Regions from separate parts of the Homo sapiens genome. Here region 2 is reported to be linked to region 1. The links are microRNA targets in miRTarBase. Many come from high-throughput screens and were not tested one by one. Region 1 holds a microRNA gene; the other region holds the end of a gene's coding sequence.

Evidence for each region. The annotated mature microRNA hsa-miR-5089-3p reads AUGCUACUCGGAAAUCCCACUGA and lies in region 1 at 1,450-1,472, opposite strand. An mRNA with a match to its seed (bases 2 to 7 or 8) in the 3' UTR can be bound and repressed. Matches are read on the target gene's strand: a 7mer-m8 pairs with bases 2 to 8, a 7mer-A1 pairs with bases 2 to 7 and ends in A, and an 8mer does both.
Region 2: miRTarBase lists FICD as a target of hsa-miR-5089-3p. Seed matches in the 3' UTR shown: 7mer-A1 at 936-942.

What each region holds. Positions count from the first base shown.
Region 1 is chr17:46,971,137-46,974,540 of GRCh38, reverse strand. MIR5089 (microRNA 5089) reads right to left here and starts at 1,524; the gene lies at 1,441-1,524. It also overlaps a transcript of LRRC37A2 not described here and a transcript of GOSR2 not described here.
Region 2 is chr12:108,519,300-108,522,685 of GRCh38, forward strand. FICD (FIC domain protein adenylyltransferase) reads left to right here. Exons shown (of 3, transcript NM_007076.3): 3 at 1-1,911. The coding sequence ends at 176. It overlaps SART3 (spliceosome associated factor 3, U4/U6 recycling protein), which reads right to left. Exons shown (of 19, transcript NM_014706.4): 19 at 2,915-3,386. Among named protein-coding and RNA genes, the nearest start is that of FICD, 5.7 kb to the left of the region's middle.

The DNA of each region.
Region 1 (3,404 bases):
GGATGCTCTCGATCTCCTGACCTTGTGATCCACCCGCCTCGGCCTCCCAAAGTGCTGGGATTACAGGCGTGAGCCACCGCGCCCGGCGGAGATGACCTCCTTTGCTCCCCACAACACATTGGTAAGAGGAGCAGATGCTCCTCTAATTTCCTGTTTATAGGAGAGGAAATTAAGATTCTGTTTACTGATCTTGTCCAAGCTCATTCATTCCACCGGTGTCTATTGTAAATCTCCTGTGGGCTAGGCACTGTGCCAGGCACTGGGTGAGCAACGGATGGCAGACCTAGCGTCTGGCCCTGGCCAGCGCCCCAGAAACCCTGGCACTTGCTTTGCTCCCCAGGTAGCTGGTTCCATGCGTCTCAGGGCCTAGGTCAAATCCCCCACATCCTGTCCTCTGAGTCGGGGATAGTACTTCTGGGGTCAGCTGTGCCTTCACCAGCAAGATGTCCCCTAGAACGGGGGAAGTAGGGAGGGCTTACATCACCACATCCACTTACTTTCTTACTTACTTGTCTAAGCCAAGTTCACATAGAGGGGTGCACGGCTGTGGCTGCTGGGGGTCGCCCTCCCCAGACCCCAACTCAGTAGTAGATGGAAAGAAGCCTTGAGCTTTGGGGGTGGCTTCAGAGGCAAAGAATGGAGCATGCGAGGTGGCGGGTACAGCAGAAATGGCCCCCATCCAGCATTCCAGTTTGGGGGAAAGGTATACGTGTACACATGTGTCGCACGCATGCACACACATTTAATAAAAAGGACTTAAGTGGGATTTCCGAGTAGTATCTCTTGAGTGCAGATTCTTGTCAAGAAAGCAAGATTCTTTCTTGTCAATAAAGATCACAGCAGATACACGGGGTGTCCAGGACAGCAAACCCCAGCTCGGCAGACGGGGCAGGTGTCCCAGCCTCTGAGATGACAGCATTGCGGGGTGTTCTGAGGCAGCGCCTGCTCACCCTTGCAGTCATAGTTCTATTACTTAGACTTGAGATCCCATGATAAGTGCACTCCAGTCCATGGATAAGGAGAGTTTAACCCATGGGGAACGCTAGATCTCAACAATTTTCAACAACGAAGCAACAGAGGCTAGGTGTGGTGGCTCATCCCTGTAATCCCAGTAATTTGGGAGGCTAAGGTGGGCGAATCACTTGAGCCCACGAGTTCGAGACCAGCCTGGGCAACACAGTGGGACCCCCATCTATATGGCAAAAAAGAAAAAAGAAAAGAAAAAGAAAAAAGCAGCAGCAGAGTGAGAGTGAGCAAGCCAGCTGTCATATGAGATTGTCATCTGGTTGTGTGGTTAGATAATGGGCTCAAGGTCACACTCAGCTAATGAGTGGCAGAGGCAGTGGGTACAGCAGAAATGGCCCTCATCCGGCATTCCAGTTTTGGGGGCAAGGTATACGTGTACACATGTGGGTTGCACACATGCACACACATTTAATTAAAAGGACTTCAGTGGGATTTCCGAGTAGCATCCCTTGAGTGCAGATTCCAAGGATGCTACTCAGAAATCCCACTGAAGTCCTTTTTATTTGACACTTTCCCACCTGGCTAAGTTAGAGGGAATACTACAAGAAGTTTTACACTCCTAATAAACTTGACGTACAAGACCTAGGTTTGCATGTCAGTGCCAGTATTTTTTAGGTGTGTCTTATGTCGCTCTCCTAATGCTGGGTGCTAAGGAAGTTGCAGAGGTGAAGGCAACTCAGGCTCTGCCCTCGAGATGCTAATAATATGACTGCAGAGACGCTCGTCCACACGGGAGATTGAGTGCTGCCATCCTCTGTGCCTCAATAATTTCTTTTTGGGTAGCCAGCGTCAGCCAGTGGGGTACAGGGTTTGGGGCTACAGAGCAGCTGTAAACCCGGGTTTCTCCTGGGGCTCACTTTGCAGGGGAGTGCCTGGGCAGAAAGCCCGGGACATGGAACCTGTATGTTGACAGCAATGCAGCCAGATGGGCAGAGGCCAACATCCGTCACCAACGGTCACATTGTGCAGACTGCTGGTTCCCTGCTGAGCTGGGGAGGCTGACAAACCTGAATTCCACCTTGTGCTCCAAAGCTGAGGTTCAGCAAGGGCTCGGGGTGCCCAGTGTGCAACCCTTTGCTGGGAATCCTTTCCTGTCCCAGGTTCTCCTTCCCTCTTGGCCAAGAGCCAGAGCTCCTTGCAGGGACTTCTTCCCACTATAGCTGGACTAGAAATGAAGAAGGGAGAGGAGGAGGAGGAGAAAGAAGGGGGAAGAGGAAGCATATGAAAGGACAGCAGGGAGAAGATGGGATGGAAGGAGAAGGGAAGAGAGGAGGAAGAAGCGGGTGGCGGGAGAAGCAAAGCAGGAAGCCAGGGTCTCGCCTCCTGCCCCAGCCCAGCCCCAGGGTTCTGTCAGCACACAGCCTGGGCCCAGCACAGTGCCCACCACAGCAGGCTGTCCCCTCCGGGTGTCTCTATAGAACATAAAGCGGGGAAGCAGCAACACTGAGGGTGATTATGGTTGAGACAGTTCCCTGTCTTGGGAAGGTCCCCCCTCTCCCCCACGTGCCCTGTGCCCTCTGCCTACCCCACCAGCCCCAGGCCTGGCTGTAAGTGTGACCCTTCCTCAGAGCCAGGCCCTGTGCCCTGCCTTTCTCTCTACTTCCTAAAGCTTCCCCCTTGCCGGGGAGGGAGAGGTGCCCAACAGGTGTGGCCCAGAACACAGAAGAAAAACATGCACACAGAACAAACACATGTTAGATGGGTGAGTGGGGGCCTGGTGAGGTGTGCACAGAACCACAGAGCTTGAGGCGTGAGAGACAAGTCTTTGATACAGGCAGGTCGGGGTGCAGGACTTCCCTCCACACTTTCCAGTCATCAGAGAAAGTCGCTTCACCTTCCAAGGCCTGTTTCTTCATCTGTAAAGTGAGGTACTCTAGCTGAGCTCTCTAGGTGGTTGGAAAGTTTAAGTGAGAAAGTGCATGAAAAGCTCCTACATGTACATACATGTATTCATGGAGCCATGCAGCTTTGCCAGGATCTGTGTGGGGTTCAAGGTCAGCAAAGGATATAGTTAGGCCAGGCTAGGGTGGGGCACTGGGTCACAGAGCCCCTAACCCAGCACTGGAGGAGAGCCAAGCCATGCCAGGACCTTGACTATCAGCTCAGAAGAGACTGCAGAAGCCATGGAGTGTGTCCTTATTATATTTTTCCTTTTTAATTAATTAATTAATTAATTTTGAGAAGGAGTCTCGCTCTGTTGCCCAGGCTGGAGTGCAGTAGTGCGATCTCAGCTCACTGCAACCTCTGCCTCCCAAGTTCAAGTGATTCTCCTCCCTCAGCCTCCCAAGTAGCTGAGATTACAGGCACCCACCACCATGCCTGGCTCATTTTTATATGTTAGTAGAGATGGGTTTTCACCATGTCGGCCACGCTGGTCT
Region 2 (3,386 bases), not on the chromosome of region 1:
ACGTGTTGGAAGCTGCCAACGAGGGCGACGTGAGGCCTTTCATTCGCTTCATCGCCAAGTGTACTGAGACCACCCTGGACACCCTGCTTTTTGCCACAACTGAGTACTCGGTGGCACTGCCAGAAGCCCAACCCAACCACTCTGGGTTCAAGGAGACGCTTCCTGTGAAGCCCTAACCCTAGAAATCCTCAGTGACAAAGGCTGTCCTGAGGTAGGAAAAAAAAAAAGAAACAGCATTTCTAGAAACCTAGTCACTTCCTAAAGCAAAAGGAGAAACATTCTTTACCTCCAAATGTTTTAGTTTTAAAAAAAAAAAAAAACTAAGTTATGAAGCCTTGTCTCTAAAATAACTTATAATTCAACCAAGCTATTTATTTTCTTCTTTGGAGCAAGCTAGTCAGTATTGTATGGTGTCTGCTGTGTCTTGCTGGTGGCCGTGCTTTAGGGGCAACAGTGCCACCATGTGACCAGAACAAAGGTTCTGGAGCAGAATTTGCACTAAGGTGGAGGAGCGGCCAAGAGGTGTGGGACGGGGCCCAGAGCCACTGACATAACTCCTCCAAGTGCTTCTCTGAAACAGGCTGAGAGGTTCTGTGACTGCAACTGGGAAGTCAGACCCAAGTCGCAGCTGAGAGAAATGGTTGAAAGCTCACTTTCTCAAGGTTTAGATTAGTGGTGACTAACTTCCAAGCAAACTTCATAGAAGAGAAAATGAATGCCGACATTCCTTACTTACCTGCAGGAAGACTTTTTGAGCCATAGTTTGCAAACTTTAGTGCCAGCAGCTGTTTTTTTTTTTTTTTTTTTCATATTGAGACTATTTTTCTAATTAAGAATAGGGGGTAGCCATAAAGAGCTGTATGTTGGAGGGGGAAACATGGTGGGCGGGCAGTTTGGTTTTCTTTGTGTATCCGCGTTTCTCTCACACTTCATTTGTAGCAACTCAGGCCAGATGTTTTCGTCTGAAATTCTCTGGGCTTGTCATTCCACCTGTATCGTGCTGCAAACCAGGTGTTATGCTAGTAGGCATCTGCCCTCACCCCTCTGCCTGAGTTTTCTGTAGGCAGATGTTAACCTGAGAAAACAAGTGCCATGTGGACACCAAGTAAGCATTTTTGATAATGAATTAGAGCACCAGTTTCTACTGAATGGAGCAAAAACCTTCAGCCATGGCCAGGCTGCATCCCTTTGGTCCTGGAGTTTCATCTACTTACTGCCATCTTCCACGGTCTTTGCACTGTCCCGTGTCCCATCCCCCTGGGAGGCAGAAGAGATTGCCTCGGAGTGGCCTTATTTTTCTCGCAACTTGTGAAATGATGTAGTGCTCTATGTAATATGGCCGGGTTTCCAAGCTGTCATCCAATGGAAGTAGAATCTTCTCTTTGAATCATATGGTACAGGTGCCAATATGACTGCTGCTATTTAGAGTCAGAGAGGTGGAAGTCACTGGGTCCCTTTCCCAGTGACAGAGCCCATGATGTCTAACACTACTGCACTTTGTCAGTGTGTGAGTGATGGCGAATACGCAGTGTTGTCTCTTTGATTTGGTAATTCCGTTCCTGACAGTAATGAGGCCACTGCTCTAAAGTAGTTTATACAGTTCTTCAGTTGTATAAATAGCACAGAGTAGTTTTTGAAAGGTTAAGAAAAATAAGTGAAAAGACATACACGATATATGAAATGGCTCCAAATGATAATTGTTCAAACCTTTATAAAATGTGTTTTCGTACTCTTATGCTGCCAGAGGTACTTCTTAAAACTCTTCTCGTCTTGGTTTTATAAGCACACCACGGAGGTCTGACAGATGTGCTTGCTTCTACTACAGAGCAAGAGAATTTGCACTTTAGCTATATGTGAAGGATATTATTTTAACAAATTCCTGATTCTAATAAAGTTATTTTATTACATGAATGCTTGAGACTGTCTTATTTGGGAGATGTTCCCATCTGTCATAAGGGCAGTGGGGGTATTCTGACCTTTAGCCCTATTCATAATACTGTTCTGGGAGAGCAACAGATCCAAGATGGTGATTTCCATGGGCAAGAGACCCAGAAGTTGGATAAACCGCCTACCTAGGTGGGCAAGGATGAATTACTGATTTTTTTTTACTAACAAACAGTCAAGTAACTGAAGTAGTTTTTCACATTTCTATTTATCATCAGTTCTGGATTTTCTGGGGAAAACACACAAACCCACTCATGTAGTCCTGGAAATCCATTTCTAGAACAGTCAACACCCGGAACCTAACTGGGTTCTGCTCAAGCCTGAAAAGGTTTGCCCCTGTACCAAGCCTGGGCTGACATCTGCAAGTGTGACATTAAGGTCAGAATACTGGCTGCAGGCAAAGCCAAACCGTTAATGTGAAGCAGCAAAAAGTAAGGCCACACTCACCCATAGTGATATTCAGGGCTCTTCATGTGTCAGGTCCCCAACCATGAGGGCTCTGAGCTACCCAAATCATCACACCAGCTGAACAGTCCATCAGCCTTCCAAGCAGCATCACAGAGAACACTGCAGGAGGAACGCGTGGGACAGCAAAGGTTCTTGCTGCTGTCAATAGCCGCCGCTTGAATTTAATTCAGAAGTAAAGCCTAGTAAAAAGTTGGTTTTGTATAAAAAAGAGATGGAGGGGAACCTACCTTTTAAGACTTAAGAGGCTTACCAACCAATAATTTACAGGGAGGAGAGCTGATATTTGTAGGAAGGTGGAAATTTGAGTGGACAGTTGATGACATGAAGGGATTACCACTAATGTTTCTAGGAGTGAAGGCCTTTCAGTCCTCCTGAGACACCTGCCGCAACATTACTGGATGAGCACAATGACATCTGGAACGTGCCTCAATATAACAGAGGGTGGAGGGGAAACAGACATGAAGGAAGAGGGGCTGGGAGTTGAGGAATGCTGGAAGCTGAATGGTAGGCACACAGGAGTTTATTTTACTGTTCTGTCTACTTTTTAATCGGTTATATTAAAAAATGTTAAGTTAAAAAAATATAGAAAACCCGACTGATGCACAAAAACTTAAACTTACGCAACAGATAAATGAGGAGTTGATTCCCACGACATATACAAGGATTCCCTGACGTCTTTCTCCAGAGTGTCTTAATAAAGCAAGCTTCCCCTACTGAACTGGCCAATGCTGTTGCTGTTTTCAAAGCAGTAAATATTATTTGATAAAAGATGTGAGGTAAAAAAGCTCAAAAGCTCCAGTGTCAAACTGCTATAAAATGAAGACACATCACAGCTGGAATAATTTAAATCAAAGTGACAATGGGATTTGACTTACAAAAGTTCTATTTACACATCTATTAGGTAAAGCAAGGTACACCCACTTCAAAACACATCTGTATGTGAATGCACATCTGAGTACCATTCAGCAAGAAGT